2 linked regions of the Homo sapiens genome follow. The protein of the gene in region 1 purifies or fractionates together with the protein of each later gene. This does not show direct contact. Each region holds a gene or a part of one and is shown on either strand. Other genes may lie near its edges. The genes, in order: FMNL2 and USP48.

What was found.
Region 2: the proteins of FMNL2 (region 1) and USP48 purify together in Homo sapiens (affinity purification with mass spectrometry; one large-scale study listed by BioGRID and IntAct). This does not show direct contact.

Annotation. Positions count from the first base shown.
Region 1 is NC_000002.12:152,621,382-152,625,198, forward strand, and holds part of FMNL2 (formin-like protein 2), read left to right. Parts: intron 1-1,155; coding exon of another isoform or gene 1,156-1,176; intron 1,177-3,817. UniProt on the Homo sapiens protein: Plays a role in the regulation of cell morphology and cytoskeletal organization. Required in the cortical actin filament dynamics.
Region 2 is NC_000001.11:21,755,627-21,759,443, reverse strand, and holds part of USP48 (ubiquitin carboxyl-terminal hydrolase 48), read left to right. Parts: intron 1-1,660; coding exon 1,661-1,781; intron 1,782-2,739; coding exon of another isoform or gene 2,740-2,741; coding exon 2,742-2,898; intron 2,899-3,817.

The sequences.
Region 1 (3,817 bases):
TTTATTAATTGTTTTGCTTGGGTTCTTCCCACTACTTGATTTTAAAAATGTGTTGGCTCTGTCAATTGCCTCAATATTTTAAGGTGTAGAGCTCTGTGCTTGGCTGATAACCAACTGCTTTTAGGGTTTGCTATACTTGGAAGTGGTCCCTGTTGTGGCTCATGCAATTTAGAGGACTGTAGGTGGGAATACAGGAACTCTTTATTTCCATAAGTGTCCACTAAATGATTGTGAGGGATGTCTTGGAAGCATTATAAGATCCTTGTGAGTCTTTGATAGCTCGAGATCAGGCAATTTCTCCAAGGCCTTTAATCTTTCTTTATTATTCATCCTTATTTAGACTGTTAATTCTTAGTGATTGAAGCCCATTTGGTGAGATGTTTTGCTAGTGTGTTGAGTAACTCTCTCTCTCACTCTGGAACCAAGAGGCCAGACAGAATCAGGATGCCCAGTAGAATGAAGAGACAGAGCTGAGCTAATATTCTGAAGCCTCCTGGGAAGTCAGAAACCTATGACATCACTTGGCCTCTGGACCCACAGGCAACACGAGGGTCTTATCTCTTCAATGGGCAGGTGTGTTCTTGGAGACCAAGACAGAAGACCAAGAGGAGAGCCCCATAGTTTATCTAGTTGAGAGTTTTCTTTGTATTTTATAGAGAAAATAGTAGTAGTGTGAAATATGCATTTGAAGAAGAAGGCTTCCTTCCTCTCAAGTCTGTGATAGAACAACCTGGCTCCCTTTCCCCCGGTAGGTCACCTGAGACAGGCTGCTGAGCAGGTGGAACCTTTGCCGTCTGTCTGGGAGGATGTGCTCGGATCCTCACAATGCGAATTTGGACTTTGGTTGATTGTTTTTCATGTAAAAATTATTCCTATCCTATGGAATGCCTAGCACAGTTCAGTATTGCTGTTTGGTACCACTACGATGAAATAATTTTTTTCTTCCCTCTTCTAAAAAGGATAATTTTAAAAATGAAATAGTTGAGTCTTGGAGGCAGGCCTGAATGGAAATGAATTTTTGGCTCTGTGCCGCCTTGTGAAATGTGTCCAAGAAGCATGAAATTCTATGCTGAGTGCGTGAACTGCTGAGCCACTTGACTCTAACCATATCTAATTTTTTTTGTATTTTCTCTGTTCTTTCTGCTTCCACAAAAGATGGGCCAATCAAGCTTTTCTGTAGGTTGCTCCTCACTGAGTGTGTTGAGTATTTGCCATGTGTTTCTGTTGGTCACACTGTGCCTTGACATCTTTCCACTCCATTTTGCTTTGATCCATTGCATTTTGACTTTGTGTCTGCGGGAAGTCTTGGTGGTGGCTGATGATGATTCCAGGTTTGCCCACACATTCTAGTTGAACCTACATAAGAGACTATTGTCCTTGAAGCAGACATCCTGGATTCATATGCCCTCTTCCATTTCCTCTGAGAAAAGGTTTTTTTTTTTTTTTCTTCTTCTTCTTTTAATTTTTATATTTGTATCTGAGACTTCAACTCTAAGAACAAAAAAAAGGTGCCAGGTGCCCCTTTTCCATTCCCTCCCTCATGCTGGTCTCTGGCCCACTCCAGGGAGCACTCACCCGCCTTTAGCCCGAGCCATGGGGACACAGTGTGTCCAGTGGTCACCTATGTGCTTTCCTCCTCTTCCCACTCCCACCCTGGTTAAAGCCAGGAAAACCTTTCCAAGGAGGAGAACTTTCTTGCCTGTGTTCTGATCTCAGGCTTATTCCTGACCTTGCTAAATAGTTAGAAGGGTGGTTGCAAATGGCAAACTTCTAGCGAGCGTCATGAGCCTACCATGTCTGTGGGAGGAAGGTAGGACGCCATTGGCACCAACCTGTCACCTCAGGTTATGAAAAGACTCCTCTGCGGCCCTTCTGCTGCTCCCCAGATCCCTAACATTGCCGAAGTGCCAGAGGCAATGCTAGGGCAAGTGCTAGAGGAAAGTCTGTTCCTTTGTCCCATCGAGAACATCTGTTTTCCTGGGTAGCGTAGACAAAATGCTGTACGGTGAGGAATCTGACACTGTGGCGTAGTGGGGACAAAGGTGTCATGTTTGGTGGTGGAGAGGCCTGGTTTGGCTAAAGCTGTGTCTGTTTTTCTGCATGCTTTTGTGTGGATTTATCAGATGACATTCCTGCTGTTTAAATGGCCTTTGTAACTCTGGAGGAATGAGAGGCACTGTCTGTCTCAGTTAACGCCAACTGAGGCAGGCAGGCAGGCAGCCAGCTACAAGCTTAGTCGTGTGTTGCTTTTATTTTGTTCTGCACTGAAGCGCTGAAGTTCTCCTCCCTGTCTTGCTAATAATGACAAATAGTGAAGCTCCCAAGTAGTGTGGTAGGCTACCCAGAACAGACTGACGAAGCTGAATGTGTATGGCTAAATGGTTTGGGAAGACTTCTTTATGATATATAATAGATAAATATAATTTTAAATGGATTACCTTTTTTGGCATATTCCCGCACAGTGAGAGGAGTTGGCACTCCCCATAGTCCCTTAAAGATACATCCCATTCTCTCTATTAAGAGGTTTTCAGTATTTTTAATGAGTGTGTAGATACCTCCTAGTCAAACACAGCTGACTCCTGGGAAGAACTTGCTTTTCAAAATGAAGGGCAAGGGACTGTGGCTATTTCTGAGTCTGAGAATCCATACAATTCCTTCCCTTCCCTCCCCTCCCCTCCCCTCCCCTCCCCTCCACTCAATTCCCTTCGCCTCCCCTCCCCTCCCTTCCCTTCCCTTCCTTCCCATCTCAAAAAAGAGGAGTTTCCTCCCTTCCTCCCTTCCTTCCTCTTTTTTGAGATGGAGTTTCGCTCTTGTTACCCAGGCTAGAGTGCTATGGCGTGATCTCGGTGCACTGCAACCTCTGCCTCCCGGGTTCAAGCGATTCTCCTGCCTCAGCCTTCCGAGTAGCTAGGATTATAGGTGCACACCACCACAACTGGCTAATTTGTGTATTTTTAGTAGAGACAGGGTTTCACCATGTTGGCCAGGCTGGTCTTGAACTTCTGACCTCAGGTGATCCACCTGCCTTGGCCTCCCAAAGTGCTAGGACTTTGAGCCACCACGCCCAGCAATTTCTTTTCCTTCCCCCCCGCCCCTTTTATTTATTTATTTTTAAGACAGAGTCTTGGTCTGTATGTACCCCTTTTTTCACTCTGTTGTCTTAAACATTTTCTTAGGCTGGGCAAGATGGCTCACGCCTGTAATCCCAGCACTCTGGGAGGCCGAGTGGGGAAGCTCGCTTGAGTTCAGGAGTTTGAGACCAGCCTGGGCAACATGTGAAACTCTGTCTCTACAATAAATATAAAAATTAGCCAGGCATGGTGGCACACAGCTGTGGTTCCAGCTACTTGGAGGCTGAGGTGGGAGGATTGCCCGAGCCTGGGAGGTCAAGGCTGCAGCGAGCCATGATTGCGGCACTGCACTGCAGCCCGGGTGACAGAGCAAGACCTCAAAACCTATTTTCTCATTTAGGCCATTCATATCCCTTAGTCTGCTTGAAATAACCCAGCAGCCAATATATCTTCATTATCGGAATCACCCACAGGAAGTCAGCCTTCATGACGTTGTACTTCTGGTAGTCTAGTCAGCCACTGTCTGCAGTCCCTGATCATCTTCTAAGGTTTGTTTGTAAACATGTGGTCTGCAACCAAGAATTTAGGATGTCCAAATATGGCAAGTTTTTGCCCTCTCTGCTATCTAGTAACATGAGTAATAATCTTTGCTCTCCAACACTTTTTATTTGTCCCAACCATTGTCCTAATATTGTAACTGTAATGCAGCAAATTAGTTGCCTGAGTTAAAAGAAAAAAAAAAATCA
Region 2 (3,817 bases), on another chromosome or scaffold:
TAACCCATGTCTCTATGGAAAAGAAGCCTACTAATTAGAGTTGGCTGTTTGTTCCTTTTGTCTTTAGCCAGAGGGTACTAGTAAATGAGCTTGATAACTGTTTAAGTTACTTTGGTCAGTCACACCCCCTCCCTCTCCCTCCCCCACTCCTGCCTTCCCTTCAGTCTGGATCTTTTATTTAGTTGAAATATGTTTTCTCTGTTTTGAATTTAGGGTTCCTGTCATCCTTGTTGATTCCTTTTTTTTTTTTTTTTTTTTTTTTGAGACCGTGTCTCTCTCTGTTGCCCAGGCTGGAGTGCAGTGGCACGATCTTGGCTCACTGCAACCTCCGCCTCCTGGGTTCAAGCAATTCTCCTGCATCAGCCTCCAGTCTTCAGCCTGTAGCTGGAGTTACAAACGTGTACCACCACACCTGGCTAATTTTTGTATTTCTAGTAGAGACAGGGTTTCACCATGTTGGCCAGGCTGGTCTCAAAACTCCTAACCTCAAGTGATCCTCCTGCCTTGGCCTCCCAAAGGGCTAGGATTACAGGCGTGAACCACCACGCCTAGCCAGTTGATTTATTTTTGTTTGTGTGCATGCGTGAAGTAGTGTGAGAAACAGTCACATGGTCCCAAATTGTTCATTATATGAAAAGGTACATTTCCTTTTCATTCATTCATTCATTCATTCATTCATTCATTCATTTTTTCCAAGACAGAGTCTTGCTCTGTCGCCCAGGCCAGAGTGCAGTGGTGTAATCTCGGCTCCCTGCAACCTCCGTGTCCTGGGTTCAAGGGATTCTTCTGCCACAACCTCCCAAGTAGCTGGGATTACAGGCCCGCACCGCCACGCCCGGCTAATTTTTGTATTTTTAGTAGAGACAGGGTTTCAGGCTGGTCTCGAACTCCTGACCTTGTTATCCGCCTGCCTCAGCCTCCCAAAGTGCTGGGATTGCAGGTGTGAGCCACTGTGTCCGGCCGAAAAGGTGTATTTTCTTTTAACCTTATTCCCACTCATGCTCTGTAGGTAACCAATTTCATTAGTCTCTTGTTTTTCCTTTCTGTATTTCTTTTTGTACAAAATGAGCAGAAATATGTACATGTATATTTTCCTTATATATTTCTTACACATAACAGTATACTAGAGATACTCCTTTGCATTTTGCTTTTTTTACTTAATAATGTGTCCTGGATTTATAAATTACCTTATATCTGTTCATAGATATCTTTTTCATGCTGTGTGTGTGTGTGTGTGTGTGTGTGTGTGTGTGTGTGTTTTACAGTTGCATAGTACTCTGCCATATAGATGTACCATATTGTCTATTTTTGGGCATTTGGGTGGCTTCCAATATTTTGCAATTAACAGACAGTGCTGTAATGAATAACCTTATGAGTGAGATTTTGCATTGTTGGAGGTATAGCCTAAGGAACAGTAAATCCTCAGAAATGAGATTGCTAGGTCTAAAGGTAGTTGTCTATGTAGTTTTGTTAGTGACTGCATTTCTACCAGCAGTATATGCATGCTTTCTTCTCCACACCCTCACAAACTGAGTGTCTTATACTTTCTCAGTTTTGCTAATTTATAGATGAGAAGTGGTATCTCATTTTAGTTTTAATTTGTTTGTCTCTCATGAAACTATGGTCTTTTAAAAATTAAAGGTTTTTTTTTTCCCCTTAGACGAAACTGCAAAGGAAATCCGAATTGCTTGGTTGGTATTGGTGAGCATATTTGGTTAGGAGAAATAGATGAAAATAGTTTTCATAACATCGATGATCCCAACTGTGAGAGGAGAAAAAAGGTAAACCATCATTTTTTAAGCGATTGCTATATGCTGTTTTTTGTTTTTGTTTTTGCTTTTGTTTTGGGCCTGTGATCAGAAAACTCTACTGATTTCAGGTAACCTGTGCAGCTTTAAGATAAGCAGTAGAACTTAAGACTCTAAGCCACTTGAATTGGAACACTTCTTAATGATATGCTTTAAAACAGGCAGCTGCGTAATTCAGTAAGCCTTTAAATAATAGTTTTAGTTTGAATGCTGATTCTATGTTTGCTTTAACATTGCATGTTTTATTTTGAAATCTTAACGCCTCTTTAAAGGAGATGGTAATTCAAGGGAACAAACTCATGATGATAGCACTTTGCTTTCTAGGGCTTGTATTTTATATATAATTTTGCTTTTTAAAAATATACATTAAATTTTCTAGACATAAATCTTAGCATTCACGAAATATCCAAGTTTGTTATATATAGATATTTTAATAAAATAATAATTCTTTGTAAGGTCAGGAATTCCCAACCTTATCTTTGGAAAAAGTTGCAGCCAGTTCCCTCTACCACCGCCAATCTTTAAAATCTCTAGAATATAAAGGAAGTTTTCTGCATAAGTTTTACTTTGTCATTCTGCTGAATGCTGGCAGTTTAGAAATACAGAAAACATAAAACCTATATACGCTTGTTCAAAACCGATCTTTTCTAGAATCCACTGTTCTAATTTTAGATTTAAGTGGCTGGAGAAGACGATATGCTAGAGATGAGCAGTGATGCCGTCCGAAGTCTTTTTCACTCCTGTGGTCAACCCAAAATGGGGCTTTCATGAAAATTATGCCCCACCTCCAGCCAAGAGAAACTTAAGGTGGCTATACCATGTTGGTTGTGACGGTCTTACACATTTTTAATCTGAAAATTTAAGAATAATGCTTAGAAATTGGTTGTTTAAAGGAAAATGGGTTTTATAATTATGAATTTTGTATTTTTGTAGAACTCATTTGTGGGCCTGACTAACCTTGGAGCCACTTGTTATGTCAACACATTTCTTCAAGTGTGGTTTCTCAACTTGGAGCTTCGGCAGGCACTCTACTTATGTCCAAGCACTTGTAGTGACTACATGCTGGGAGACGGCATCCAAGAAGAAAAAGGTGGGTGGAAAGGGGTGGGGGAGAGCTCTCTTCCTGAACATTTTTTTAAACTTTTTTTTTTTTTTTTTTTTGAGTCTTCCTCTGTTTCCCAAGCCAGAGTGAAGTGGCGCCATCTCGGTTCACTGCAACGTCTGCCTCCTGGGCTGAAGCGATTCTCCTGCCTCAGCCTCTTGAGAAGCTGGGATTACAGGCGCCCGCCACCACGCCTGGCTAGTTTTTGTATTTTTAGTAGAGACAGCGTTTCACTATGTTGGCCAGGCTAGTCTCGAACTCCTGACCTCAAGTGATGTGGCTGCCTCGGCCTTCCAAAGTGCTGCGACTACAGGTGTGAGCCACTGTGTCTAGCCTAAACTTATTTTATTATTATTATTATTATTTTTTTAAGACAGTTTCACACTTGTTGCCCACGCTCTAGTGCAATGGCACAATCTCGGTTCACCACAACCTCCGCCTCTCAGGTTCAAGCAATTCTCCTGCCTCAGCCTCCCGAGTAGCTGGGATTACAGGCGTGCACCACCACGCCCGGCTAATTTTGTATTTTTAGTAGAGACGGGGTTTCTCCATGTTGGTCAGGCTGGTCTTGAACTCCCGACCTCAGGTGATCCACCCGCCTCGGCTTCCCAGAGTGCTGGGATTACAGGTGTGAGCCACTGTGCCTGGCCTAAACTTATTTTTTTTATAGAGACAGTGTCTTGCTCTGTTGCCCAGGCTGGTCTTGAACTTCTGGCCTTAAGCAGTCCTCCTGTCTCGGTCTCCAAAAGTGCTGGATTACAGGCATGAACCATGGTGCCAGGCCTTGAATAGCTTTTACCAGCCTGCAAAACCTTTGCACCCCAAGGAGTAATATTTTATCTTTATTTTACAGATGGTATATTGACTTGCTGAAAGCCACAATTGGTAGTAAGGATACAAATATTCA